Linked DNA regions of Homo sapiens. The main gene of each other region encodes a partner of the protein of the gene in region 2 in a complex. Each region holds a gene or a part of one and is shown on either strand. Other genes may lie near its edges. The genes, in order: FKBP1A and BMPR1B. A codon is read from its position in the direction of its gene.

What was found.
Region 1: the proteins of BMPR1B (region 2) and FKBP1A are in contact, whole or in part, in a crystal structure (PDB 3MDY), measured with the Homo sapiens proteins. Residues at the interface, in NP_001194.1 of Homo sapiens: Leu179 (codon at 10,853), Gln182 (codon at 10,844), Ser183 (codon at 10,841), Ser186 (codon at 10,832), Pro193 (codon at 10,811), Leu194 (codon at 10,808), Leu195 (codon at 10,805), Val196 (codon at 6,062), Gln197 (codon at 6,059), Arg198 (codon at 6,056), Thr199 (codon at 6,053), Lys202 (codon at 6,044), Gln203 (codon at 6,041), Glu238 (codon at 5,936), Trp241 (codon at 5,927), Phe242 (codon at 5,924), Thr245 (codon at 5,915), Glu246 (codon at 5,912), Gln249 (codon at 5,903), Ala264 (codon at 4,698), Ile266 (codon at 4,692); in NP_000792.1 of Homo sapiens: Tyr27, Phe37, Asp38, Asp42, Arg43, Lys45, Phe47, Lys53, Gln54, Glu55, Val56, Trp60, Tyr83, Thr86, Gly87, His88, Pro89, Gly90, Ile91, Ile92, Phe100.

Annotation. Positions count from the first base shown.
Region 1 is NC_000020.11:1,378,510-1,394,105, forward strand, and holds the start of FKBP1A (peptidyl-prolyl cis-trans isomerase FKBP1A), read right to left. Parts: upstream 14,546-15,596; 5' UTR 14,490-14,545; coding exon 14,453-14,489; exon of another isoform or gene 14,391-14,452; intron 14,373-14,390; coding exon 14,325-14,372; intron 227-14,324; exon of another isoform or gene 1-226. UniProt on the Homo sapiens protein: Keeps in an inactive conformation TGFBR1, the TGF-beta type I serine/threonine kinase receptor, preventing TGF-beta receptor activation in absence of ligand.
Region 2 is NC_000004.12:95,120,328-95,135,923, reverse strand, and holds part of BMPR1B (bone morphogenetic protein receptor type-1B isoform b precursor), read right to left. Parts: intron 12,115-15,596; coding exon 12,018-12,114; intron 10,942-12,017; coding exon 10,803-10,941; intron 6,063-10,802; coding exon 5,870-6,062; intron 4,710-5,869; coding exon 4,412-4,709; intron 1-4,411. UniProt on the Homo sapiens protein: On ligand binding, forms a receptor complex consisting of two type II and two type I transmembrane serine/threonine kinases.

The DNA.
Region 1 (15,596 bases), on a different chromosome or scaffold from region 2:
ACCCTAATGTAAACTATGGACTTTGGGTGATCATGATGTGTCAATGCAGGTTCGTCAATTGCAACACACGTACCATTCTAGTGGGGGGTGTTGATAACAGGAGGCTATGCATGTGTGGGACCAGGGGATATATGGGAAATCTCTGTACATGCCTCTCAATTTTGCTGAGAATCTGAAACTGCTCTTAATGAAGTCTTACAAAAATAAAGAAGTCTGCTTTGCCTTAGGTTGGGTCTTCAGTTACCTGCAGCCAAATGAACACAACTGGCGTGAGGTAAACCTCTGACACTTAGTGAGCACGCTACAATGTAGTGCTGCCACGAAAGGAATAACAAAGAAACAGAACTCAACAACTAAAACCACAAAGAACTATCCCTGATCCGCGACAATGGGAACAGTGTCTCATGTCAGGACCCAGTACACACCCACATTTTGTCTGTGTATAAACAAAATTTACATGTAAGTTACTACATGGCATATACTTCTCATTTTTAAAAAGAATGCTGATTGTGACCCACTACATTTATTTCATGATGCATTAATGGTTCATAACCCACAATTTGGAAAGTACGGTATACCTATAAAAAATTAGCCTTATTTCTTGCCAAACTTGAACACGGCTCTGACCTGTGCAAGATCGTATTTTGATTGCAGTGAAAGCCACAGGGTACTGAGACAGACTCCCTAAACTTCCTTTTTATTCCTGATCAAATGCAATGCCAAGCAACCTCCAGACACTACATGCATCAATGTATCAATGTTGCTTTGCCTGAGGTGAGATACTTCAACTATCTATCTGACTGGTACCAGGCTAGGAGCACTAGGCAGGACACAGCCTGAATCTGCTGCTGCTGCTGCTGCTGAGCCAGCATGGAGATGTGTATGTTCTTCAGTGGCTCTATGTGAGGATGCCTGTCTAACCCCAGCTCTCCTGAGCCTATCTTGGACACTGAGGGGCAAACCTCTCCCTAGTATCTTAAAACCATAAAAGCCAGGAAGCAGGATTTCTAAGTAAAGGAGCTTTAAACAGGACCTTTGCCTAGGATCTTAATTTTCCTATGCTATTTTGGATGCTCTGTTGTCCCTGGGAAAGGGGCATGAGACTTGCTCCAGAATTTCAGACCACAGTCACCAACTGTCAATCTCATCTACTTTCTAAGGAGAAATCTTCGCAGGGCAGGGTTGGGTGGTGGCAGTGATGTTGGGGTTCCTTGAGTCCAAGGAGAGGATTTCCCATAATCGAGTCCGAAAGCTAAACAATAATCCCCCGAAATGGGTGGGGTGGTATGTGATTAAGTGGGTGTCACACAACTGGCACAAGCTACAGGACAAGGAGAAGGAGGGCTTCCCCAGTGGGGAGGAACAGGCCACTTATCTATGGCCCTAAGTTGTCAGCCTGGGGGAGAAGGTGGAAGCAGTGTTTGTTAAGCTGGAATGAGTGTGCATGTGTAGGAATTATGCTGTTCAGTCTGTAATGTCAAAACAGATAGTGAGAACTTCCATTTCTGGTCACGGTGGAGGACAAGGATCAGATTTGTTCATGAAACAACCAACAACCAACCAACCAACCCCTTCCTCCCTACAAAAAGTCCACTAAAACCTAAAAACCACCTAGACAAAATAGCTACAACGATGGTTTGTAGGACACCAGACATCTGTAATGAAGAACAATAAATCCTGAGACATGGGAAACAAGGGCAGCCCTATATCCTTGGGAGTTTCCAGGGAGAGGGACCTGGAGTGGAGCTCAAGGCACCTAGAGTCCATAGGACACAGTACCAGCAGGAGAGAGCTATACAGAGATCCCCAGAGATCTGCAGGGTCCTCTTTGAGTATTCAGCAGAGTCCCTCTCAGTGCATGTATCTGAGCAAACTATTCAAGGCCAGGAAAAGAACTATCCAAAAGGCTTAGAGGAACAGTATCCAGTGCTCACACAGGGCTAGGATTAGTGCTTACTACCCCCCGGTCAAACTGGAGAAGCTCATGATTGACAAAGCACTGGGCAGAATACTCAGGAAGATCTTGCCTATAGTAGGAAATAATCAGCCCTAAACTGAGCTCTAGACCTACCTAACAAATCACAAAAGCAAGACTCGCAAGCATCAAACTGTTTCCGGGTAACTTAAATGCTTCTCAGTATAAAACTCAGGAAAATTTATAGGAATAAAAATATCCAGCACCCCAAAAGGCAAAATTCACAATGTCTGGCATCCAAAGATTACCAGGCATGCAAAGAGGCAGAAAACAGGACCCACAATGAGGAGACTTATCAATCAATTGAAAGCAACCCAGAACTAACACAAATGTTAGAATTAGTAGAGGAGAACCATAAGACTCCAACTTTCAGAGATGAAAACTACAATGTCTGAGATGAAAATTACATTGGGCTGAAATGACAAAATATCCACACATAACACAGTAAAAACTTCACACCATTATCAAGCATTAACTCAAAATGGATCCTAGACCTAAATGTTAAGTACTAAACCTATCAAATTTATAGAAGAAAACATAGGAAAGAAATCTTTGTGACCTCGAGTTGGGTGAAGATTTCTTAGTATGATGTCAAAAAGCACTATCTATAAAAGAATAAATTGAACTTCATCAAAATAAATTCAGTACTTTAAAAAGCACTGTTAAGAAAATGAAAGACAAACCATACACTGGGAGAAAACTTTTGCAAAGTACATATCTGATAGAGGACTTATATCCAGAATATAACAAACCAAAATTCAACAATTAAGAAAACCAATAAAAAAGGGCTAAAGATTTGAACAGATACTTCATTGAAAAAGACAGAGGGCAGGTAAGCATATGAAAAGATGCTAAACATTCCTAGTTATTATAACAACGCAAATTAAAACCACTAGGAAACGCATCTACCACCACTGATTAGAATGAGTAAAGCTAAAAAGACTGACCACGTCAGGTGTTAGTGAGGATGTGAAGGAACTGGTATTCTCATACACTGCTAGTGGGAATATAACATAAAGCTTCAGAAAACAGCTTGATAGTTAAGTTAAACATACACCTCCCATATGACCCAGCCATTCTGATCTTGAGTATTTATCCAAGAGAAATGACAGGCTATGTCCACAGAAAAACTTGTACACAAATGTTCAAAGCAGATTTATTAGCGATAGTCAAAAACTATAAACTAACCCAAACATCCACCAACGGGTAAGTTGGTAAATACATGTTTCTATATATAGAAAAATATTTAGCAACAAAAAGGAACAAACAATTGATACATGGGACAATACAGATGAATCTCAAAATAATTATACCAAGTGAAAGAAGGCAGACATAAGAGAACGTACTGTATGATTCCATTTATATAAAACTTTAGAAAATGCAACAAATCTACACTGACAAAAAAGCATATCAGTAGTTGTTAGAGGAGGGTAAGGAGGGGTGAATTCAAAGGGAAACAATGACACATCAAAATTTATGAAGCTGTACATTTTTAAAATGTGCAGTATATTGGATTTCAATCACGCCTCAGTAACTTTTTTAAAAAAGGAAAAGAAAAAGAGTAGGCAGTGGCATTTACTAAAATGCTATATATGTTTAGCTCCCACATACACACTGGCAATGAATGAAAAGTGCTTCCTCTCTTTGGGGAGGGAACAGGTAAAGCAGGCAGCAAGTCAAGTCTCAGCAGCTGCTCCAATTTTAACTCTGGAGATCACTTGTGCCAGGAGCTGGAGCCCTTGAACAGTGAAACCACCTGCCAAGTTAGTGCCATAATTTCCTAAAGAAAGCGTGCCCTGCTCAGAGAAGGCAACTGAGGTTACAGTGCAGACAAGACAGCTGACAGTCTTTAAGCTCTAAAGGCCACTCAGCATAAAACATCACAAGCATTGCCTTCTAATTGCAGAACTGACCAATTTCATTCCTGGCCGTACAAGCCTATAACTCATGCCTAACAAACTGCCTGGAATAGCTCCATATTCTTATTTTAAGTATTTAGTCTTGGCTCTCCTGACTGAATGCAGCCCAAGCTCACAGACCTGGCCTGCGTTCTGTGTCCTGGTGGCACGTATGGTGCTGGTACTCAAGAGCACTCTTGGATTTGCTTTACTTGCATGATTTTTAAGAACCAGAAGGACAAGCATGAGGCCTTCATATTTAGACCTTCTTCCCTATATGGTAACAAGAATATGAGGGGTAATCCCAGAATGGTAAACTTTACTTTAAGCACCTTTAGTTACTAATCAGTAAGAAAAATGTGAAAATGTGCTCCAGTTAAAAGCACAAGACCATGAAAGAAGCCAAAGCTATGACTGACTGCATGCAGAGGCTGTTGACGTCATCTTCGCCTGGGTCTCCTCCTGAACTGAAATCCTTGGAAAGGGAGCAAAAGGGTTTACAAAACAAGACGGTGCAGAGAGTCTCAAGTCTGTCTACTCCACAGCAGCCTGCTCTTTCCTGTTGCTTTTCAAGGAATCAGCAGAGGGAGACCTGGCCAGCAGCTCCTGGGCAGCAAAGTATCCCCAGACTGTGTTCCTGGTGGTTGGCTCAAGCCACTGAAGCGGTGGTTAAGACTCAAGACCAGGACCTGGAGATTCACAAGGACCACTGGGATACTATTTCACTAATAACCCAATAGAAATGGAGTCACTTCCAAGGCACTCTGCTTTGGGGAAGGGCAGAGTGCCATATACCTTCTACTGGGTAACAGGACTGAAGAAGGCACCTCTACAGACTTATGGCTTCACTACTTGTAGTGAAAGCTCATGACTCACAATGCAGTTTATAGTTGCTCATGAATCTTTGCAGGAGTGTTTCCTATAGGCAGCATTTTACAGGGACAAAATATGGGAAGTTTTAAGATTAAAAAAAAAAAAATGACTAAACTAAACCAAAAATCAAACATAACAAAAAACCAGAATATCCTAAGCCCCAAACCTTCAAAATAAAATAAAGTCCTTGCCATTTACAGTTTGGAGAGGGAAAAGGATTTCTACTTTCAACACGCAGGTGAGTTTCTTAATGACAAAAAGTACAATGAGGCCAGCTGCGGAGGAGGCTCATGCCTGTAATCCCAGTGCTTTGGAAGGCCAAGGCAGGAGAATCACTTGAGGCCAGGAGTTTGAGACTGGCATGAGTTTGCAACCAGCCTGGGCAACACAGCAAGACTCATGTCCCCAATCCTGTTTCTGCAAAAAATTAAAAAAAAAAAAAAAAAAATTTAGCCAGACATGGTCCTAGCTACTTGAGTGGATCAAGTGGGAGATCACTTGAGCCCAGAGGTTTGAGGTTGCAGTGAGCTATGACCGCACAAGTACACTCCAGACTGGGCAACAGAACGAGACTCTGTCTCTTAAAAAAAAAAAAAAAGGTGTAATGGTTGAATGGGTGGAGGTAGGGGGAGCCAGTATTTTTCTGCAGCTTTGCATTTGAAGCCACTCAGAACATTCCCAGATGGGCGTATGGCTCAAGGTCTAATGGTTTAGCTGTTTGCTTTCCCTCTTCTTATTAGACACAGAAGTTCTCTTAACCACCTTTTACTCAGCTGCCTTACTTGGAGACTCATAAAACTCACAGCCTTCGTACCCCAGCATAGTGAAGAGCACTCCCCTCATGCTTTAGTCTCTAGCTCATGATCACTTCTTCATTCCCATATGAGTTCTGTGTTCACAAAGGGAGGAGTGGTTAGCTGTGTTTGTCCCCAAATCCATTTATGGTAGCTATATTTACTGTGTAAATATAATGTAATTAAATAGTATGTAAATCAATAAAATGAGTGTGAATACAAACAGCGGTTCTAGCTGACTCCTGGGAAAGACTCAATAAAGGCAAGTCACTAAAAAACTATTGCTAGTGAATAATCATATGGGAGACTACATTTAGAGAAAGAAATCTTAAAAATCTGGAAAGGTTTGGTTTTTAAATGTTCTCACAATACTCTTTGCTCTACTTTAAAAAAGGTCAAATTGGTTTTTGCAAGAACTATGATGGGAAACTCCACTAGCAGAGCCATCCTCAAAGATAAAGACATAGTCCTTTAGCAAATGATTTATGTTAGAGTTTGAAATCAAATGTTTACAGAAGCCATGTCACTTTTATGTTAGCATACCAACTACCCACTTGTCTCAATCATGATGGGTAAAAAGGGATTCTACATTTAGATAGGCAAAAGATACAAATTCAAATCTTACATTCTTATTATTCCATTTCTGGGTCTCTGTGGCTGTATTCCAGCACAACCTCCCTGAAGTGGGGTTCTGAGAACTCCTTATGAGTGAGGGGTATGACCAAAGGTCCAAGTGCCAACCCAAAGAGGGAACCAGCTCACTCTCACTATCATTTTCCTGAGATCACCAACAGTGCAAGCACATTTCCCATACGCAGTATGGAAATGCTTCTAACCTTTGGCTAAATCCCTTTAGATCCTATAACCAAAAGTGTATTTTCAAAGGCAGGGCCCATGATGGGAAGAATATGCAGGATCCAACGGCAATAAAAAGAACACAGACCAGAATGCATGCCCTGTGGGTGTGTCTCTCCATTTTCCACTTTAATCACAGTATAAATAAGAGGAGTTACTACCACATTATATCGCATGGGGAGGGGGAGAAAGAAATACCACTAGGCCGGGTGCAGTGGCTCACGCCTGTAATCCTAGCACTTTGGGAGGCTGAGGCAGGTGGACTGCCTGAGCTTCGGAGTTTGAGACCAGCCTGGGCAACATGGTGAAACCCTGTATCTACTAAAATACAAAAAATCAGCCGGGCATGGTGGCGTGCGCCTGTAGTCCCAGCTACTTGGGAGGCTGAGGCAGGAGAACTGCTTGAACCCGGGAGGCAGAGGTTGCAGTGAGCCGAGATTGCACCAGGGCACTCCAGCCTGGGCGACAGAGTGAGACTCCATCTCCAAAAAAATCAAAAGAAATACCACTTAACAATAGCTAGCTGGAAGTGGTAGAAATATGCATTTTCTATAGGGTATAATGGTTAAAGGCATGAGTTCTGGACCTCTGTTACAGACTATTATTACAACTCCCTCCCTGGTCTCCCTGCTTCTGCTCTTGCTCTCCTACAGTCTAAACCTGACACAGCAGCCAGACCCTACTACCCCTCGGCTGAAAAACTCCTGTGACTCCCCCATCTCAGGAGATAAAACTCTTAAAATGGCCTACAAGACCCTCTAAGAAGTGTCAAGCCTCCGCCCCTACCACCATCCCTCTGACTTCACCTCTGATTACTCTTGTACTTTTCCAGTCCCAGAACATTGTTTCCTTATGTTCTACATACACACCAGGGATACCTCCACCCGTGGGCCTTTGCATTTGCTGTTCTCTCTGCCTAAAATGATCTTGCTCAAACAGTCACATAGGTTACATCCTTACCTCCTTCAAGTCTTTGCTCAAATGTCACTTTCTCATTGAGGCCTTTGCCAATCTATCTAAAACCTCAACCTTTTCCTATTCCCTCCTTAACACTTACTAGCTTATACACAACAGTCTTGCTTATTAATCATATTTATTATGTCTTTTCCACTACAGTGTGAGATGAAGGCAGGAACTGTGTCTTCTTCACTCCTAAATTCTTGGTAGCCAGGACAGTGTCTTGTACATAGCAGACATTCATCAAGTACTTACAGAAATATCAAAGGTACCCTTTTCTCCTCCTGGCCTGTGTATATACCTGGAAGACGCTTTCCTCCTGCCTGACTGCACCATACACACCCAAGACCAAATGGCACTTCCTCCAAGAAGTTCTAGCCTATAGGTGTAGGTTGCCTGAGGTACTTTCATTGTAACTGACCACTCCCTACAGGGTAAGCTTCTTGAGGGCAACATTGAGGCTTTGCCCAGCTCCTTATATATTCACTGAGTGACCGAGGGAATGCCAGGTCCTAACTGGCCACTCATTCAAACAGTCACTGAATAGCTACTCTATGCCAAGACTGATGGGGAGACCTTGGAGAACAACACTAGTGTGGGTCTGGCCTCCTGGAGCCTTCAGTCGGTTGGGGAAAGAGCAGATGTTTAACTACACGGATCCTGACTATGATGGGGGCTAAGAAAATAGATGGGTGCATTGTTGCAGAATTAGAAGCATGCATGTATGCATCCAAAGTGTTACTTAAGCTGTGCTATAAAGAAAAGAGCCTGTCATGCAGTGGGGAGTGGGGGCAGTGTGGTGGCACCTAAGCAAAGGGGCAGAGACCTCCATGTGGGAAAAGGCTTGGAGCATTCGAGGAATGAATGCAGGCCAAGGTGGCTTGAGCTCCTGGGAGAGGAAGAGCAAATGTAACAGAAAGAGACAGTAGCATCTAAGAACTGGTTATTTCTACCTCCCCGACTTTCTGCACTGCTAGAATACACCTGGTCAAAATCAAAGGGGTCCAGGGGAGGGAATGCAGAGACTTGGTTAAGCTTTTTAGCAGGAAAAGAAAACAAAAAAACAGAAGAAAAAATAGAAGTAAAAATAAACAAATGTCACCATGAGCACCAAAGGGAGAACTGAATGCTATGTGATTAAGTTATTCATAACCTTGGCTTCTTCCATGGGAAACAGCAGGTGACAATATTTTTAGAGAAAATTCCAAGGCAGACAAATGATTTCCAGTTTATGGATACAATAAACCCCTCAGTAATTCATAAAAATCAGTTTAAGCCTAAAAATGTTCTAGTTAAAACATCTATGAGTAAATAGGTGAATTTATGGTATGTAAATTATATTCAATAAAGCTGTTACCAAGAAAAAAAAAGGTCATGGACCCCACTGAAAGGAACCAGAGCTCTTTGAAAGATGGCTGATAATTGGACCAGAGTAGTGAAACCGAGAAATGGATGAAGGAATGGTGGGAGCCTGTCAAAAAGGTACTGGAGCCAGCTTAAAGGGCTCCTACTGGCCAAATTTAGGATGATATTAGCATCAAAAAGAATAATGGGTATCATTGATCTTAAGGCCCTGACAAAAAATTTCAGCCCACAGTACAGTCAAAGCAAATAGAGGGGGAAAAAGTCACTTGCCCCCACTGGGAATGGCAATACCCCATCAGTTAACATTCATTTTTCATTTTAAAAATTGGTAATTAAAGGCTGGGCACGGTGGCTCATGCCTGTACTACCAGCACTTTGGGAGGCTAAGGAGGGTGGATCACTTGAGGCCAGGAGTTTGAGACTAGCCTGGGAAACCTGGCGAAACCCGTCTCTACAAAAAATACAAAAATTAGGACAGGTGGCATGCACCTGTATGCCCAACTATTCAGAAGGCCGGATGGGAGGCCGGGATGGGAGTCTGGGAGGTCGAGGCTACAGTGAGCCATGATCAAGCCACTGCACTCCAGCCTGAGTGACAGAGACACTGTCTCAAAAAATAAAAATAAAATTTGGTATTTAAAGGTAAAGAATTACTTTACCTTATCTTATAGAAGGATAACAGCTAATAAATTTAGAAAGAATGAAGGAATTTTAAAAATCAACACTTTGTGAATGCCAGTGACTTCTTCAGGGGAGAATGATCAGATGGTGTAAACACCACTAGGTGAAAGGCTGATGAGCAAGAGACCATCTATGGCTACCTAAGCACTCCACAGATCACTGCTAAATGCAAAGGGAAAAATGTACCTTTACAGAAAAGATCAAATTTAGCATCACAACTAGTGATGTTTCCCATGTGTGCTGAGGATGAAGTACTCACACTAAAATGTTTAAACGGAATCTATTCAGACACTTAAAAGATTAAACATCCGGTTCAGAAAATCAAGGCAGGGAACAAGTTAAACAATACCATGAGAAAACAGTAAGACAGATGTGGAGTATTCTATAACTAGCCTGCTCTCTTTGAAGAAATCAGAGTTATTAAGAAAAAAACAGCGTAAGGACTCTTCTAGACTGAGATTACAGACATAACAACTGCGATGAGTGAGGCTCAATGGAACTGTGGTTTTAAAAAAGAGCAACACTTTGGAGACAACTGGGTAGTCTCGATAGGCATTTGCTTCACAGCAGGCATCGTTACTCCCATTTTATAGACAGCATGTGGAAGCTGGGAACTGTGGGACAATTTGTTCAAGCTCTCATAGCCCGTTGTATGGCAGGGTCAAGATCAGAACACAGCGAAGAACCCACATGCTCTTTGGGGATCACTGTCCACCTGGCACCACTTCTGCCCACTGCCTGAGCTGGCACTCCACACACCTGGGATACAACCAGTGTCCTGTTTCTGCCTTTGCCCCCAAAAGCCCATTGTCCACACAGTAGCCAGAAGGAGCGTGGGTTGGGGGGGCGGGGGCGGGCATTAAAAGCCAAGCCAGCCAGTGGCTCTCACCTGAGTTAGAAAAAGGCAACGTTTTTATAAAAACCAACGAGGCTCCACCATCCCCTCATCTCCTGCCACATACCCTTTCACACAATCCACTTCCTGTTCCTCTAACGCACCGGTCTTCTTACTGTTCCTCTAATGCACCGAGCAGGCTCCAGCCTCAGGGTCCTGCACTAGCTCTTCCCTCTGCCTGGATACTCTAGACAGCCCTGTAGCTCCCTCTCCAATGTCCTTTGAGTGAATGTTAAAATGCCATTTTTTTCAGAGGCCTTTTCCAATCACCCTCACGAAAAGCAGCCAACTTCCCTTCCCATCCCTCACTCTGCTTTAATCTCTCCAGCGCTTCTTACTACCTGATGTGCTCCATGGCCATACTATCAGTCTCCTCATCATAAGCAAAGCCCCACCAGATCAGGTCTTTGTCTATTTAGTTCACTAGCCATGTCCCTAGAGCCTGGCTTGCTGCTGTTGCTCAAAAAACATCTGCTGTGGGAAGGCAAAGGGACTTGTTGCAGCCCTGCCCAACAGTTACAGCCTGTGTGCCTCAAGACAGCACACGTCAGGGGAAGCCATCTGAGGCATCTCTGCTGAGGGTGAGCCTCCCTCCAGACATCAGATCACCAACCAAGAGATACCTAGCAAGGGAGTGGATGGAATAAAGCAGAGGAGAGGGGGGAACAAAGCTAAGGAAAAGCAAGGGGCTTGAGGGAGGCTGCAGCAAAGTGGCCACACCTGTCCCGGGAGCCTCAGCAGCCTTCCCAGTCAACCTCCTGAGGACATGAGGTTGAGGGGCTCCTGGTTTTTCTCAGTCAGAAACCGGGAGGCTATACCTGACTTAAACCTGATCCCAAGGACAAAATGTCCAGTTAGTTACTTTTTAAGAAGAAAAAAGAAAACATTCCTTCAATCCCCTTGGGGCTGCTCTCACAATGGCAGGCACACGGCCTGCTGAAGTAAGTAAAAGAGGTCTAAACCTAGCTGTGTGCCAGGACAAGCTAACAGTAAAGATGACGAAGCTACTGGAGGCAGCAGGGAGGCGCCATGAGAATTCCCTGGCTCCTAAAGGCACTTACTTGGCAGCTTACCTTTCCACCACCTCCCTCCCACCTCAATGCCTGTCATGCTCCTAGGAGATGCTTAGCTGGTGATAGTGAACTTTGTATTTTCCCTCTGGTACCACAGAGGTAGTGCAGGCATTCCTTTGAGGCCTTGCTCATGCTGTGCTCTGCCAGAAGGTCACGGAAGTCACCAGAGGGACCCTTGAGAGTGACATCAAGGTGACTGACAGCCATTAGTGGCATTTAAAGCATCCATGTGGTAAAGGTCAGTCTGTGCTCTGCACACCTGTGATGGCTAAGGGGAGATTTTGGCCACCTTACTTCCACCCCTCTTTCTCTGGACCCGTGCCCAAATCAGCTGAGTGGACACCTGGCAAGAGCTGACTGGATCAAGAGTGTTCACCTTACTCAAACTCTCCTTCTCAGAGAAGTAACAATCAGAATCACAGCCAAGAAATCTGAGCCAGATACTCAAAAGAAGACAGAGAAGCTGGCCATGGGGAGGGGGGAGGGGGGAGGGGGGACGGGGGAGCATGCAGGGGACTTCCACCACCCACCAGTTGGGAGAAGCAGACAAACACAAATCTCTAACAGGAGACTACTGAGGCAGTCAGGCAGGAAACAAAACAAAACACAAAACAACAACCAAAAAACAGAGATGAGAACTAGAGGCATCATGATTATTTCTTTTCCCTTCTTAGGACCCAGTGGGCTTCTGCCTTTGAAAACCCCTGGAACCTTTATAACCTCCACCTTCTGATCATGTTCCCCCAAGATGGATTCTGTTCCCAGTGACTTAAAAGCCTTAACTGCTACAGATGAGATCTCCCAGTGCCTACCCACTCCTCTCACGCCCCCACAGGTCTCAAACAGGTTATTCCTGGGAGGCTGGTGACAAAGACCCACGGGAACAAAGCCACCAGCCTGCTCGAAAACAGTCTATTCTGTGAGCATGAGGCAGAGCTGGCTTCTCACTAAGGCGTCTTTATAGGGCTTATCAAAACGAAATCAAAAAGAAAGCTTTTGTCCTAATGCATGCCAGGGTCCTGCTGCTGCTCTGGAAACATGTGGGTGCGTGCCACCCGCGAGAAAAACACACACTTCAAGAGGCACTGGAAACCCTGATGGTGTTCTGGGTCTCATGACCATCTGTTCTCATAGGAAAAGGCTCCAGACATGCTGTGTGGGGATATTTCACAAAGAGACATGGTGAAGTGCGGCACTGCCTACATGCTGGGGTCCAGTCCTGTTGGCAGCACCAGAACATGGGCGAGCATGAGGGGCAGACGTGGGAGTGGGACACATGCTGCCAAGCACCCTAGTGTGGCTATGTACAAGCTAGGGTGGGGAGGGGGTGCGGCAGAAGGCAGCTCCTCACGGCTTGAGTCCCAATCTTTGCCCCAGTTGGCTGCGGAACTGAATGAACTGCCCACTCACCCCAGCACTGTAAATGGTTACTCTCCTCATCCTTCCGATGACAAATCACCAAAAGGATGCGCTTTCATCTACCAGACCTCCCAGGCTCAGGTGCTGACTGTGGCCTACAAGGACAGCTATCTAAAACATCAAAAGCACTTTCCAGCTTCCTTCACGGACATGAGACTGCCTGCTCCCCAGAAAGATGGGTTTCAGTAACTCCTCCTTTGGCAGAATTTTTAAAGTTCTAGTCCTTAACTTCTACCTCCTGCCCCCATTTCTACCCACGGGGAAGGGCCACAGAAATAAAAGGGCATGGGAGGGGGGATGTTAGTTGCCTTTTCCTCTTTCCAGTGAAAGTCATTTCCCTCAATAGAGGGATCCCTCCATGTTTCCATGATTTGGAAGAGAAAGGTGGAGCTTATTCGTGAGCAACTTGGCCAGAACTGCCCACAGCCTACTACCCAGGAGGAGGAAGAGGAGGAGAGGGAGTGGGAAAAAAAGAGGGAGGAGGAGGGGGAACAGAGGAAAGGGTGGGAAGGTTGAGAAAGGGGAAGGAGGAGGGGGAGGGAAGGTTATTCGTATCAACAACTGTGGCTACACCAATCACTGCCACCCTTGTGGGACCCACAGCCACTGAGTCTCCGCCAACTCAGCTCTCCCCCTCCCCCGCCCCCATACAAACCAGGACAAGCTTGTAAGGAGAAGGAGTAAGACAGCCCCAAGGCACACGACTCTGATGTCTGAATTCTGGCTGGGGAGGGGGAGGTGTCTAAAATTTCCTTTGGCTTGTATTATCACTATGTATTAGCCTCCAGATGCTTATCTTTAAAATGAGGACGAGAAAAGTCTCTACTTCTAGAAGAGCTGGGGGACTAAATTACACGTGCAGCTTTCGGTCAGCCTGAGCCAGCGCTGTCACTGAGCCTTGGATTTGTAAGTGGCTCAAAAGTAAAAAGACGGAAGAAGGCCGTGCAGCTCTACTTCCCCCAAGGCCAGGAAGGGCCAAAGCAATGACTTAGGAAGTGGGATGTTTCCCCACCCTAGGCAAAGGGGCGAATTCCGAGTTCCCCGGAGGAAGCAGCAGCTCTGCAGACTCGGAATTACCTCGTCCTCATCTCCAGTGAAGGGAGGGATGGAAGTGGGGGCAGGGGCACAGAAATGGTACAAATCCTTCCTAATGGTCCCTGGCCAGAGCTCTGCCCATTCCTGAAAGTGTGACCTTGGGAAAGTGAGACCTTGGGAAAGTGACTTCGCCTCGCCAAGCCTCAGTTTCCTCATCTGTGCAGCGGGCATAAGGGCAGCATCTAAGGTGCAGAAATGCTTCTGACGGGTCAGATAACACCTAGCCCGCAGCCGACGCTCACAGCCGCCGATTCAGACCCGCCCGGGTTCCGCAAGCCCCAGGCTGCCCCTGAGCCACCGCCCAGGCCTCAGCCTCGGGCCATGCGGACCTCGCCGCCGCCACGCCCCGGACCCCAGGCCCCGGGCCCCCAGGCCTCGACGGCCAGCCGCACCCGGGCTGCGGACTGCGGCCCGGGCCCCCTCCCCGCTGGGCCCCCGACTCACCGGTGTAGTGCACCACGCAGGTCTGGCCGCGCTTGGGGAAGGTGCGCCCTGAGGAGACAGAGACGGGCATGCTGAGCCGATGCGCGCGGCGGCAGAGGTACTCCGAGCCGCCGCGCGCCACTACTCACCGTCTCCTGGGGAGATGGTTTCCACCTGCACTCCCATGGCGGCGGCGGACGCTGAGCGGGCGGGCGGCGCGACGGGCGGCGTGGACCAACAGCGACCTGGCGGCGGTTCCACGGCTCTGCCTAGTACCTCGGCGCGTCGCCTGCGCACGCGCACGCCCCCTCACGCCCAGCCCTGCGTGCGCGCCCCACACGGCGCGCGACGTCCCGGAAACCCAGGCCTCCGGAAGAGGGACCGGAAGCCCAGAAGCCCCGAGACCTCCGGAAGCCCGGAGGCCTCCGGATACAGCTGTGTTTGCCGGGTGACTTGCTTCGTTCTCCTGCCCTTCCTCTGTGCTTCCAGCCGGTTAAGCATCTCCCTGCCCAAAGAATGGGAGTAATAATAGGGGGTCCGCCAGTCACTGACTGGGTGACTGTCATCAGGTTTCCACTTAGAAGCACACAGTTACTCATCCTGGGAAGAGCATGGTTCTGAGAAGACAGCGCACAGGTGGTGGTAGTATGTTAGTATTTTATAAGTGGCTCAAGGTTGTAAGTTCTGCTTTTCTTCACTGGAGGAGGAGTTGTCCAAATTCATTCACTCACCCATAGCTTACATGCATACATTCTTATTGAGCATGTGAAAGTTGATAATACGAATTGGGTCACTCTTCTTATGCCCAACGGAATCAGAATCCAGGGGCCAGGGGAAAAGCACTGGAGGCACGCAGCGCCTGCTCCAAGAACCAATATTTCCACTAACTGCTGCGGAAATGGCCTGCTGTCCCCCTGAGACCAGATTCAGCTAGTAACTGCTGAAACAACCCGCCATAACCTAATACTAGTTTTACTTACCACTGTCAGTCACCAATCAGAGCTTGCCAGCTCCCTGAAACTTTACTAGTGCCAATGCATTTCCCTTTCTAATAAAACGCCCAGCCTTCTCTTTGTTTTTCGGACATACCAAAGACCACCAGATCTGTGTGTATGCTCCGAGTTGCGATTCTCGCTTCCCCAAATAAAACATTACATTTAGAGATTCATCTCCATATTTTATTTTGACTTTGACAAGCACCTTCTGTATGTCATGTACTGTGCTAGGTGCTGAGGATACAGCGGTGAAGGAGTCAGACTTAGTCCCTGACCTCACAGAATCTACGTATGATGT
Region 2 (15,596 bases):
CCCTCTCTCAGCACTCCTATTCGACATAGTGTTGGAAGTTCTGGCCAAAGCAATCCAGCAGGAGAAAGAAATAAAGGGTATTCAATTAGGAAAAGAGGAAGTTAAATTGTCCCTGTTTGCAGATGACATGATTGTATATCTAGAAAACCCCATCATCTCAGCCCAAAATCTCCTTAAGCTGATAAGAAACTTCAGCAAAGTCTCAGGATACAAAATCAATGTGCAAAAATCACAAGCATTCTTATACACAAATAACAGACAAACAGAGAGCCAAATCATGAGTGAACTCCCATTCACAATTGCTTCAAAGAGAATAAAATACCTAGGAATCCAATTTACAAGGGATGTGAAGGACCTCTTCAAGGAGAACTACAAACCACTGCTCAATGAAATAAAAGAGGACACAAACTAATAGAAGAACTTTCCATGCTCATGGATAGGAAGAATCAGTATCGTGAAAATGGCCATACTGCCCAAGGTAATTTATAGATTCAATGCCATCCCCATCAAGCTACCAATGACTTTCTTCACAGAATTGGAAAAAACTACTTTAAAGTTTATATGGAACCAAAAAAGAGCCCGCATTGCTAAGTCAATCCTAAGCCAAAAGAACAAAGCTGGAGGCATCACACTACCTGACTTCAAACTATACTACAAGGCTACAGTAACCAAAACAGCATGGTACTGGTACCAAAACAGAGATATAGACCAATGGAACAGAACAGAGGCCTCAGAAATAATACCACACATCTACAACTATCTGACCCTTGACAAACCTGAGAAAAACAAGAAATGGGGGAAGGATTCCCTATTTAATAAATGGGGCTGGGAAAACTGGCTAGCCATATGGAGAAAGCTGAAACTGGATCTCTTCCTTACACCTTATACAAAAATTAATTCAAGATGGATTAAAGATTTAAATGTGAGACCTAAAACCATAAAAACCACAGAAGAAAACCCAGGCATTACCATTCAGGACACAGGCATGGGCAAGGACTTCATGTCTAAAACACCAAAAGCAATGGCAACAAAAGCCAAAATTGACAAATGGGATCTAATTAAACTAAAGAGCTTCTGCACAGCAAAGAAACTACCATCAGAGTGAACAGGCAATCTACAGAATGGGAGAAAATCTTTGCAATCTACTCATCTGACAAAGGGCTAATCCAGAATCTACAAAGAACTCAAACAAATTTACAAGAAAAAAACAACCCCATCAAAAAGTGGGCGAAGGATATGAACAGACACTTCTCAAAAGAAGACATTTATGCAGCCAAAAGACACATGAAAAAATGCTCATCATCACTGGCCATCAGAGAAATGCAAATCAAAACCACAATGAGATGCCATCTCACACCAGTCAGAATGGTGATCATTAAAAAGTCAGGAAACAACAGGTGCTGGAGAGGATGTGGAGAAATAGGAACACTTTTACACTGTTTGTGGGGCTGTAAACTAGTTCAACCATTGTGGAAGACAGTGTGGTGATTCCTCAAGGATCTAGAACTAGAAATACATTTGACCCAGCCATCCCATTACTGAGTATATACCCAAAGGATTATAAATCATGCTGCTATAAAGACACATGCACACATTTACTGTGGCACTATTCACAATAGCAAAGACTGGGAACCAACCCAAATGTACATCGATGATAGACTGGATTAAGAAAATGTGGCACATATACACCATGGAATACTATGCAGCCATGAAAAAGGATGAGTTCATATTCTTTGTAGGGACATGGATGAAACTGGAAACCATCATTCTGAGCAAACTATCGCAAGGACAGAAAACCAAACATCGCATGTTCTCACTCATATGTGGGAATTGAACAATGAGAACACTTGGACACAGGGTGGGGAACATCACACACCAGGCCTGTCGTGGGGTGGAGGGGGGAGGGATAGCATTAGGAGATACACCTAATGTAAATGACAAGTTAATGGGTGCATCACACCAACATGGCACACGTATACATATGTAACAAACCTGCACGTTGTGCACGTGTACCCTAGAACTTAAAAGTATAATGAAAAAAAAAACAGCAGGTGGGCCAGGCATGGTGGCTCATGCCTATAATCCCAGCGTTTTGGGAGGCTGATGCAGGAAGATCACTTGAGTCCAGGAGTTTGAGGCCAGCCTGGCAACATAGTGAGATCCCATCTATTAAAAAAAAAAAAAATTAGCCAGGCATGGTGGCACATGCCTGAAGTTCCAATTACTCAGGAGGCTGAGGTGGGAGGACTGCTTGGGCCTCGAAGGTCAAGGCTGCAGTGAGTTGTGATGGTGCCACTGCACTCCAGTCTGGGTGACAGAGCCACTCTTTGTCTAAAAAATAAAAATAAAAAAAGGTGTCTCAAAGGAAGAAACTGTGAAGATCAGTAGTTGTGATCTAGATACAGAAGGGGATATGGGTGTTCGGGTAATGATAAAAGCATGTTATAAACACTTGATGGTATGAGAAGTGTGAAGTCTTCAGAATAAATCTTGCCAAAGGTAAGAAGTGTGGTGGAAATAGGGCAGAAGAATAGCCCAGGGTCAGAAAAGAAAAGAGTCCACTGCACCAAGGGACTCTAACTACATTTTAATACGAAGCCACAGGAAACTATGAAATTATTTTGATGCCCAAAATTAGGCTTCAAGAAAATAAATTCAGTGGCAGCATGTACAGAAGACTGGAAATAGGAGAGACAAAGAGAAAGTAACTCAAAATGCTTCACCCCAGAATCTAGAAAAATGGTATAGAAGGCCCACACTGGCCCAGTACAAATGGGAATATTGTGGAAAGAAAATTCATTCACTTGAGCAAACCAAAAGTTAGGGAACGAAAGATGATGTCAGATACCTAATATTAAGAATGGATCAGCCAAAACTGGGAACTAGGAAGGAAATGCAGATACAGCAGGAAATCTAGCAGTCGGAAAATATGTAAGAGGTAAAAAGAGAGCAGAGCCAGTGGAGAGAGAGAAAGGAGAAGTTGGAGTACAGAGATACACCAAGAAAACAGGAGAAAGAAAGGTTTGGACACTGTGGATAGGGTGATGGCAATAGAGAAGGCCTCTGGTGACCAAGCCCAGTGGTGTCTCTGAATACAGCAGTGTCCAAAGAGAATGGAACAGAAGCCAAATTACAAGACTATTAACAAATTGCTGGGTTTTCGAAGCAGATGATCTTTTGGAACTCTTGGGAGAAATTTAACAGGGTGAGAGAAGGAGAGAGAGGCTGGTAATTTAAGAAGCATTGTGGGATTTTTTTTTTTTATAGGAAGACTTGAAAAGGGTTGTAGGTCAGAGGAAAAAAAAATCAGAAGGGAGAAAGGATTTAATAATCTTTATTGGCAGGAGGTTCATATTTCTAACTTAAATCTATAGCCCAAATCATTTCCTCTTGCTTTGTTTTTAAAGATCAAGAACTTCAATTTCCCATCCTTTACATGGTGAAGACCTTCATATATTTGGGGTATGTTATTAAATCACACCTCAGCCTTCAGTTCTGGCCGAAAATACCAATCAATCAGTCTTTTTTTGTGAATTTTACTTTCCAAACTTTTAATAATCTCCATGACTTTTTCTTTGTGCTCCTCTCCATGTATTACAGAGTCTTACTTAGAAAAATCCACAAGATGATCCAACATTTATTAATGGCTAAGCCTAAACTGAGTTCTTTAAAAGGTAGTTATACGATGATTTCTCTACACCAGTGGTTTGCAAGCTCATTTTGTTTTGTTTTCCAAACAGAGAAACCATTTATTCGAATTAAATCATCTGTGAGACGGAAGGAGCCTCTCTGATTAAAGTAAGAGTAAGCAAAATAGAGTCCCAACTATCATCTCCCCTCCCTACTGTGAAGAAGCTACTGATGTAACCCAAGCAGCCCTAAGGGTCTGAAAACCACTGTTTTACAACATGCTCTGGTTTATGTGCACAGATGTTAAATTCACTGTTTCAGGTACAGGATAACAGTACTGAATAACAGCTGGGTTTTGTTTATTAGTTTCTAACATTTCTCCCAAAACATCTATGCAAGTTATCTTTCCTATACCATATAAAAATTGTCTTTATCCATATATAATCTGTAAATTTTCCCCAAAACTTTTTCCTACTTGCAAATGTTATGCAGAATTCTGACTACGTATTCCCAGGAATTAGCTACTTCTTTTCTATATAACTTAATGACAGCTGCAAACCTAATGTGAACAGTCTCTAAGCAATGTCTCTGATGAGCATAGAAACAATAGAACAGACCCAAATATGCTGTGTTGCTAATAAAATGTTTGGTGGTTCTCCCCGTCAAATGTCAAAATTAATGATATTCCTCTTCTACTAAATATCCTAGAAGCACTGCGCTACAAAATAAAAAGTAACAGAAAAGAGTCATAAAACATGTATTTGTTCACTTTGATACTAACCTAATAAATTTAACAGCCAGGCCCAGGTCAGCAATACAGCAAGTTCCATTTTTCTTCACCAGAATGTTTTTACTTTTCAGATCTCGATGGGCAATTGCTGGTTTGCCTTGAGTACTAAAGATTTCTGTGTGTAAATGACATAAGCCACTGACAGAAGAGTAGGCTAACTTCAGCATTGATTTAGCGTCTAGGGTGGTGGACTTCAGATAATCATAAAGGGAACCATTTTCATGATAGTCTGTGATTAGGTACAACTGGGTCCAGGACCCTGTCCCTTTGATATCTGCAGCAATGAAACCTAAAAGGAAAAAAGATGAAAAGGTTTAGTGTTTTCCAAATAGTATCAGGAATAATTCATATTCTCAAACATCATTCTTTGTCATAGATAATTTTTGTTTAGCATTTCATTCAATTTCCTGACTATGCCTATGATGGTATTAAATGACTAATACCAATAAGAAGCAATCAAAATTGTACAAGTAAGGCTAGGCACAGTGGCTCACACCTGTAATCCAAGCACATCGGGAGGCCATGGCGGGTGGATCACTTGAGGTCAGGAGTTCAAGACCACTCTGGTCAACATGGTGAAACCCCATCTCTACTAAAAATACAAAAATTAGCTGGGCATGGTGGCATGTGCCTGTGATCCCAACTACTCGGGAAGCTAAGCAGGAGAATTGCTTTAACCTGGGAAGCAGAGATTACCGTGAGCGGAGATCACACCATTGCACTCCAGCCTGGGTGACAGAGCGAGACTTTATCTCAAAAAAAAAAAAAAAAAAAAAAAAAGAAAAGAAAAGAAAAAGAAAAAAACCTGTAGGAGTAGAGAAAGATTAAGAGTTTACATCTGAAAATATGGTCCCTTCCTAATCAGTAGTTGATGTTTAAACTACTTTATGGTATTACAAACTACTATGGTATATAAACTACTTTATGGTATTATGGTTACACATAAGACATTGCAAAACAGGGTCTTGAATTCTTGAATTAAGGAATATACCCCACTGATTAGCTTACTCTCCTTCTACTTGAACGATCCAGACAGATCATTTCTAACTTGCGAAACAAAATCAATTCTCAATATAAACTATTGATATAAATAAACCCTGCAGATAAGATTCCTACAACTTTTCTCAACATTTAAACAAAAATAAGTTCCTTCAAATTCCTAAGAAACCCTAAGAAATTCTGGTTTTACACTCGCATTTCCTGTTTCTGAAGAAAAAATATTTGAGAGTATTCCATTTCCAGCCTACCACTTACTCACAGAAGTGCCTTAGTCATTCCTCCTGTGAGGTCTCCCATTAGAAACTTATGATGTTCTTGGGCCCATGCCAAGAAGAAAACTTCAATACATTTCGCAACGGGTCTAGACAGATGAGTTAACATGCAGATGTTAACAGAAAGACAGAGGAAAGCTAGGAAACCCTGAACATAGCTATGCAGACTTTTACTCACCCAAAATGTTTTCATGCCTCATCAACACTGTCTGATATATTTCTGTCTCTCTGAACCAGCTGGCTTCCTCTGTGGTGAAGAACACTTTCACAGCTACCTTTTCGCCACGCCACTTTCCCATCCAAACTTCCCCATAGCGACCTTTTCCAATCTGTTTCACCATCTGAATCTGCTTAGCTATAGTCCTTTGGACCTGTGAAATCCCAAAACACACTGTTAGTGTATTCACAGCGCTACAGATTTGTTTAATCTTTTTTTCTCCAGAGAAGAAACGATTACTGCATGTAAAATATATTTAGCTAGTATTTTTCTCTATATAGACAACTTATTTGTATTTATTTATTAATTTATGTTACACTCTTTTAAACATATTTGAGATTGAGTGTGGATTCTGAATGTTCAAAACACTGCTTCCAAATTATGAAATACTTTATTTTAGTATTATTATTTTCTCAGAGAAAAAACCTGAGTAGGCTCATAGTAATCAGCAGAGTAGAATACTTGCACTTCCCCGTTATAATGGACTACTACATACTCTGAAGAGACTCGTCACCATACACCTAATCATGTATAAATATAACAAAACAAAATTGTAATGCATTGTTAGGCACATACAGAAATAAAGGAAATCTATATGCAGGGAGGAAGAAAAAAGGGAGGGAGGGAGGAAGGAGGGAGGGAAGGAAGGAGTTGAGACCAGACCAGGGAACGATAAACCAAGCTGCCGTCTGGGCAAAGAACAATACCAGAACTGGAATCCAGAGTTTAAACTCTGACTCCTTTAAAACCAGAGGAACTGAACCTAGGGCTTCAGCATTAAGCAGAGAGCATCAAATGGTACTAAATTTGCTATGGGTTGGTAGCATGCCAAGGCTCCTCATTACAAATGCTCTCTCTTGAGGAAACCATTTGCAGAATACTTTTCATGCCGTGACTATGGCGGGATAATAGTACTTTGAAGGAACTCTTGCCACCATACAACTTGATCATGGGTATAACATAAGAAATAAACTGTAATGCACTCCTGGGCTCACAGGGAAATAAAGGAAATATCCAAGAATGGGGAGGAAAAAGGAGAACAAAAAAAAATGGAGGGAGAGAAGAAAGAAAGAGAATGAGAGAAGATTATAGAGAATGAATTCTTTAGAACAAAGAAACAGTCACTATAAATGAGAGTCAACAGAAACAACCCAAGTAGATTTAACCTCTTCAGATTACATACTGGAATTCTGAGATACAGAATGCCAAGTAACTCTAAATGAAATGAAAATTGAATAAAAAATAAGCAAGAAAAGATTAATGGAAATTACATTTTTGTAATGAGACAGTTAATTGTCACAATAAAAAATGCAAAACAGGTAGACAAACCAGCATATTAGAGAGAAAAGTTAATAAGAGAAAGTAACAAGTTGGAGATAATATTATTTACCAAGCTCTAAGAGAGCTCTGAACAATATTATAAAGAGTGGAGTACAGACAAAGAGAATGAAAATATGAGTTAAGTGGCATTAAATTTAAATGTCTCTTTATATATGATCTTCATCACATCTGTACTTACAGTAAAATATTTGAAGAACTCTGATATCAATGGTTCCAAGATTGAAAGGGCTAAGCATCTATTACAATTTATATAATTTAGAGGACATAAGGAATCTAGCGTATAACTCTTATAACACCTGATCAGCAAACTGGAACGTATTCTTTGTAGAGATATACTTTACACCAATTAAAAACTTAAAGTTTTTCTTTTTGTACTTTTAAGAGCCATGCAATTACATTGGGCCACCCCAGATAATCCAGAATGATCTCATCTTATCGTCAGCAACCTTTGCTCACCTTTGTCATAGAACATAAAATTCTAGGGATTAGGTCTGGGCACGGTGGCTCATGCCTGTAATCCCAGCACTTTGGGAGGCTGTGGAGGGAGGATCCCTTGAGTCCAGGAGTTCAAGACCAGCCTGGGCAACATGGCAAAAACTCAGCTCTACAAATAATATGAAAATTAGCCAGGTGTGGTAGCACACACCCGTAGTGACAAGCTACTTGGGAGGCTGAGGTGGGAGGATCGCTTGAGCCTGGGAGGTCAAGGCTGTAATGAGACAAGATCGCACCACAACACTCCAGCCTAAGTGACAGAGTAAGACCTTGTCTTAAAAAAAAAAAAATCCTGGGGATTAGGGCATGAACATTTTGGGGGGACATTATATATTATATATTATTTATAATGAAGATTATAAATTTCGTAATTTATTAAAAAAGAACTGCTGATGTACCATGAAGCCACTGAAGCTTGATGGAAATAAGCAAGCAAGTTTATGTGTAATGCAGCCGTCCTCTCTTTAGGAGCCCTGTGCGCCATGAGACATCATGTTGAGTCCACTGTACTCCATTTCCAAACAAGGAAACAGGAGCAACATGGGCACCAGTTGGGAGCCAAATTCATACACAGGGAAATCACTCATTTGAGAGGAAACTTCCCACATTTATTAAAGAAAAATATTTAATTTACAGATCTTACAAAGCATTGCTCATGTAAGTCTATGGAGAATTTCCTAACATAAGCAGTTTTGCATCTGCTTTTTTTTCTAACGATAATACATTTTATAATTTAATTATAAGTTTTGACAGAATTGGCGATACTTGATAGAATAGGAACAACTTATCCCAAAGACAGAAAGTAAGCTATTATAACATGTAAGGACCTAAAAATATAACTTCAAAATTTTTTAACTGATTTATTTTAGTTTTTATTTGATTTAGCAAATGTTTCTGGTCCTTCTGTACCTAAACTTTAATTCTATATTACATTCTTAGATACCAACTTTTTAGATTGATTGTATAAATAAAATGCCTGTAAGATACAATGACTATAACTGTACTTTCAAAAAGATCACTATATTTCATGTACTCTGAGAATAACTGAATGTATAAGGAGTTATAAAGAATTATCACTATTCCAGGACTGTGAGAAGACATACACAGAACACACACACACACACACACACACACAGTCTTAATTCTTACAACAGCCCTACGATATTATTTCCTTTTAAAGTAGGAAAAAATTGACATTTTATGAAAAAGAAAAGATGCAAAATTAAAGGGCACGTATAAAGTCATTTGTTAAACACAAGGTCCAAGTATGTGGTTATATATAAGGCACTAATTTGCCCATTATGTTATTAAAATTAATAACAAATCAATGTTAAGATGAGGTATTCACTCACATATCAATATATGGAGAGAGAACTGTATACCTCTGCATTGTTTATCTTAATAACCAAATCTTAAAACCAGAAAATAAATCTGTAATAGAGACTTTTTCTTTATTGAACTGAGTTTTATAGAACCCTCCTTCCCATCCTACCGCCATCAAATGCACTTTCTTGTTTTATTTAACCAACATTTAGTTCACATCTCACTAATGTTAAGAGCACAGATCATCTGGGTTTGAATCCTGGCTTCTCCACGTACTAGCTAGCTGACCTATCTGGGCCTGTATCCCCTGATGTGTAATACAGGGTTATACTGATATTTCTGGTACTACCTTATAGGGTTGCTATGAGGACTAAATGAGAATTTGATTTAGTTTTAAAGGCCAATGTCTGGCCAGGATTGGAACCCAGACAATTTGGCTTGAGAATATATGCTTTTAATCATTATATGATGTGAGCCAAATATTATTTTTTGGTATCTGGATTATAGAAACAAGACAGTATTTTTATAGCTATTAAAAGTAGGAGCTGAAAGCTTTTTAAAAACAAATTATTGAACAGCGCCTATAATAAATCAGCCACTCTACTGGGGATAGAAAGTGAGCAAAATGTAACCTCTACCCCAAAGAGGACAGACTCCACCAAAAGACACAAGAACATTACCACTAATTATAACATTATTTTAAATGGCCATTATTAGTGCTAAAAATAAAATGTTATCACAGAAGATAAATAGACTGGCTTAGTCTGGGGTAACTGAGAAGTTGTCACAGAGGTAAAACATGAGGTAGGCCTTGAGCCATGAGTTGGAGTGATGTCCAGTAAAGAGATTACATTTGCAATGACGTGGATATATGTTGTATTTGAGAAACAATTACTCAAAGGTGATGCTAGAGCCCAGGCAGCATACTGGGAAGAGGTGGGAGGAGACGTCAGGAAGGCAGGTTGAGTTTATGTGCCACACATACCAAGCTGGGAAAGAAGACCTGCAAGCAGTATTGGGTATTAGGATATTTTACCCAGGACATAACAGTGCAAGATCAATGGTTTTGGAGAAAGAACTCCACAGTAATGGGAAAGATGAGTTTGAAGGCAAGAAACACTGGAAGAACTCAGTTTAAATTCCAAGAGCATCTAATTCATTAATACCAAAAGGGATTTTACTATTTGTACATCTCTTTTAGAAAAAAATAAGTGTAATACTATTGATTTTCAAATTGTATTTGCTCATATATTCTCTTCAAGGTTGGCAGTGCTGACCATCAGAAAATGAAGCTTCTCCTGAATGGAAAAGCCAGAACTTTACCCTGAAACATAAACCCCACAGCTGAAAAGCAACCCTCTTTCTTTGTAGAAATACTGAGAAGCCAGTTGGTTGTAATACTTTAGCCTTCAAAAGCCAGGCCAAAGTGCGGTAATGCTATCCTTATGGAAAACACAGGGAAGATGGTCCCGTGTTTAATGTTTTCTAATCTGCTCTTCATCAGAATGTCTGAGGGTCTGGATTGTAACCATACACCTACATTAAAAAACAATCACCTTACTCTCAATATGTCAAAATGTTATCAGGAAGCCCTGCAGCTGAGATCGGATGTCCAACAGACTGCATAGAGCTTTCTCCTTGTCCAGTGCCCTATTTCAGTAAGTGAAACCCCATATTCATTGACAGTTCTTTCAGAAAACATTTCCTTTAAATTCAAGATGTGTTCTTCTCATACCAGCAGAGGGAGGCCTGATCCACTTCCTGAGCTCTGAGACTGCTCAATTAAGTCTCTCAGGGATTCTCCAGGAGGAATGTAAGTTTCATCCTGTTCTAACCCAATGCTGTATCGAGGTCTGGTTTCTTGTCTTTTATACCTAAAGATGGATAGATGAAGATAATTTTAGATAATGAAATGCAATGATGGAGTAAAATATTGCAACTAAAATGGTAATCACAGCAGTTTTATTTTAGCACCTAAATATAATACATTAAATGCTTCATATTTTTTACTCTTAGTTATGGTTTCCCAAGTAAAACTCATTACTGTTTGGCTAACCTATTTTTTAAAATAAACTAAATAAACTACATATTTTTACTCAGTCTCAAGCATCTACAATTTTTCTTCTTTTATTTATTTCAAATTGCACATATCCAAGCAGACTACATTCTACTAGTGTTTCTAAATAGCTCCAATATTATTCCTTAAAATCTTTTCTAAGGTCCCTAATTAATTAAAGATGTAAATTTTGGGTGTACAAAAATCATTATAGCTAACTCTCTTATATAAGGTCATATCTAAAGAAATAATATAAATTTAATCTTTAAAAACTTTTTGTCAATACTTAAGTTTTCAATTAGAAATGAATTTATTTGAATCAATTAATCTGACCATTTGCAGAGTATCTCAAATGAGTAATAAATTAATCAAAAGGCAAATGACATAAATATCAAGGTCCTTAATATTTCACAATCTAGAACATAAGTTCATAGGCCATTAAAAAAATAGGAATTACCGAATTTAATATAATAAAGGACCTTATTTTAATGATTAATCTATAAATTATGTTTAAAATCTTTTAATAATCAGAAACGTTATAGCTTAGAAAATAAGGAATTTGAGCAACTCTTAAGTTCAACATGGCCATTTCTCTGCTTGGAATCAAACCTAAGTAACAACCAGTCTCTGAAGTCTCTAACTACCCTAGTTTCCCTAGGGATAAAATATTTATATGGGTAGTTTTGAAGTCTGAAGCAGAAATGAGATAGGTATCTATTTGTAACTTCATTAGGACAAATATTTATCAACAGTAACAGACATTTTCAGTTAACTATAAGATCTAATTAAGATAAATAAAGCTGTGGTGAGAAACACTAACAGGCAAAAGCAGAATATTAGTAAAAAGAAGACACTATAAATTAAAAATTTTGCATCTACATGTTAGAAACTTACCGGAAGTAACAAAATAATATGATAAGGACCAAGAGCAAACTACAGACAGTCACAGATATAAGTAAAGCCCTGTGGTGTATAGGTCCATCAACAAAATCTGAAATTAAAAAGAAAAAGAGCCATAATCAAGAGAATATTTTTACTTAAAAATAAGAAAGTAACTCTTTCCTAAAGGTACTTGCTAAGTATCACGCACAAAATGTGAAAGATCCTTTTCACATACCAATTAATTTTTTAAAAACCCATATATACTCAAAATTAAATAAGTTTGACTAGCGTGAATCATCCTTCACCTAGGCACTTAATCAAGAGCACACATTTCTTCCTGTCTGGAAGGAACAGGCTCGACACAGGATAAAACTACAGAAAGAACATCAACAAAGCTAAGTGGGTCTGTGCACCCACAATAGAAACAGGTAGTTCATCTTTATTACAGACGCAGCTCATGGGTTCATAGGCTCTTCTCATGTGGTCTCTGGAGTACTCTATACCATGAATTTGAATAAAAAAGCATCTATATAATTCATGGGACATAAAACATAACTCGTTGTATATAAAGTCATCTTATAGTGGATAAAAAGGAAGTGGACCCCTCAAATGTTGCCAAATAGAGAATATATGGTTGTGCGTTGTTTTAAACAAAAATGTGTTCAAAATCCATACTTTTTCTTAAACTGAATCATATTTTAAAAGAATGTATATGTTCCAGCCAAAGAATGTATGATACTTTTATACAACAAATTATTAAACACTACTCATTTTAACTCTAGTTCTTGACAAATCAGATTCCTCAAATTTTATATAAATGACTTAACTTTATACAATGTATATTCACTGACTTTAACCCCAAAGATTTCCATTCAAAGTACTTTATTTTTAATAATCATCCCAGGTAAATTTTACACGGGTGATTTCTGGGACATATTTTGAGGAAACTGACTTAAAACCAGGTGCACTTATATAGTAATACCATTAGTACCATTCTTATTAAAGGCACCATTTACCTTTGAGAGAGTGATTACTGTCATTTAATTTTAAAAGGTAGTATTGTAATTTATGACTTTGGATGCTATGGACAAGACGTTTTCCAACTGTACTATATACCTTTAACTATATGGCCACCTAAATATTTTGGCTGGGAATGTTCTTCCACTCAATGTAACTTTTTTTACTCAGAAGTATTATATGTTACATGAAGAAAAACTGAAAAGGATCAACTAACCAAAATAAAATAAAATCACTACCTCTTCAACACTCAGGAAAAATTACTGCTAACAGTATCATTTCAATAAAAATGTTCATAAGCAAAATATAATATATACTGATTTATAACTAGGTTGTTCTCATTTATAATACTGTGAACATTTTCCAGAACAACAAATATTTTTTTCTGCAACAGGATTTTTATATTGACACATAATTATAATATTTTAATACATACATAATGAACAGTGATCAGACAGCATATCCATCATCTCAAACACTTATCATTTCTTTGTGTTGGGAACATTCAGTGTCCTCCCACCTATTTGAAATTATTTATTATTGCAACATGACTTTTTTTTTTTTTTGATACAGGATCTTCCTCTGTGGCCGAGGCTGGAGTGCAGTGGCACAATCTCAGCTTACTGCAACCTCTGCCTTCTGGGTTCAAGCGATTCTGTGCCTCAGCACCCTGAGTAGTTGAGATCACAGGTACGAGCCACCACGCCCCACTTATTTTTGTATGCTTAGCAGAGATGGCTTTTTGCCACGTTGGCCCGGCTGGTCTCAAACTCCTGGCCTCAAGCGATCCTCGGTCTCCCAAAGTGCTGGGATTACAGGCGTGAACCACTGTGCCCAGCTACAACCTGACTTTTAAAGACTAAACTGTATTATACATAAAATCATCCTAATTAGAAAGTGAATCTTCTGTCATACATTCAGGAGATTCTAAAGATTCTGCCATAAGGCTTCTTTGTTATACACAATTCTGTAATAAACACTCTTACACATACATCTTTGCACATGCTAATGATTATTTCCTTAATAAGATTCCCAGAAGTAGGTGTGTTAGTTCATAAGATATATATTTTAAGTCTTTTCATACATATTGTCAAATATTCTTTTTAAAAGGTAACAGTAATTTCTATTTTACCATCAATGTGAACAAAGATTTTAATTATTTTGAAATAATTTCACCCTTACAGAAAAAAAATAAGAAAAAAGAATTCCAATGTGCCCTTCACCTAGATTTCTCATTGTTAACATTTCATCATTTTAAAAATAATTATCTTGCCTTCTCAATGCCTCTCTCTCTCAATATTTATGTATAATATGCATACATACATTTGCATTCAAATTTTTTATTTGTTTACTTATTTGTGTGTCTGTATTATTTTTGGATCATTTAAAGTTTTAGACATAATGCCACTATCCACTTATAAATACTTCAGAGGGTACTTCCTAAGAACAAGGATACTATCTTACTAAACAATAATGTGCTCAAAGGGTTAATGCACAGCCCCGTGATGCGCTTATTTCACACTGCATGCCCAGATCAAAACATCTAGGAAATTATCATGAACACATAAACTGAACATAAATCTTCCAATCCATGAGCATAGGATGTTTTTCCATTTGTGTTGTCTCTGATTTCTTTCAGCAGTGTTTTGTAGTTCTCCTTGTAGAGGTCTTTTACCTCCTTGGTTAGCTGTATTCCTATGTATTTCATATTCTTTGTGGCTATTGTAAATGGGAGTGTGTTCTTGATTTGACTCTCAGCCTGGATGTTATTGGTGTATAGAAATGCTACTGACTGGCTGGGCACAGTGGCTCACGCCTGTAATCCCAGCAGTTTGGGAAGCCAAGGTGGGCGGATCACCTGAGTTCAGGAGTTCAAGACCAGCCTGGCCAACATGGCAAAACCCCGTCTCTACAAAAATACAAAAATTAGCTGGGCATGATGGCACACGCCTGTAATCCCAGCTACTGAGGAGGCTGAGTCGGGAGAATTGCTTGAACCCGGGAGGTGGAGGTTGCAGTGAGCAGAAATCGTGTCACTGCACTCCAGCCTGGGTGACTGAGAGAGACTCCATCTTGAAAAGGAAGTAAGGAAGGGAGGGAGGGGAGCAGGGGGAGGGAAGGGAAGGGAGGAAGGGAGGGAGAGAGAGAGAGAAAGAGAGAGACAGACAGAAAGAGAGAGAGAGAAAGAGAGAGAGAGAGAAAGAGAGAAAGAAAGAAAGAAAAGAAAAGAAAGAAGAAGGAAGGAAGGAAAGGAAGGAAGGAAGGAAGGAAGGAAGGAAGGAAGGAAGGAAAGGCAGGCTATTGACTGATTTTTTGTATATTCATTCTGTATCCTTAAACCTTGCTGAACTCGTTTATCAGTTCTAGTAGTCTTTTGATGGAGTCTTTAGGTTTTTCTAAGTATACGATCATACCATCAGTGAAGATACTTTAACTTCTTCTTTTCATAAGGATGCCTTTTATTTCTTTCTCTGGTCTGATTGCTCTGACTAGGACTTCCAGTGCTATGCTGAATAGGAGTGATGCTGTATACATATCCAAAGGAATATGCCAAAAAGACACATGCATTTGTAT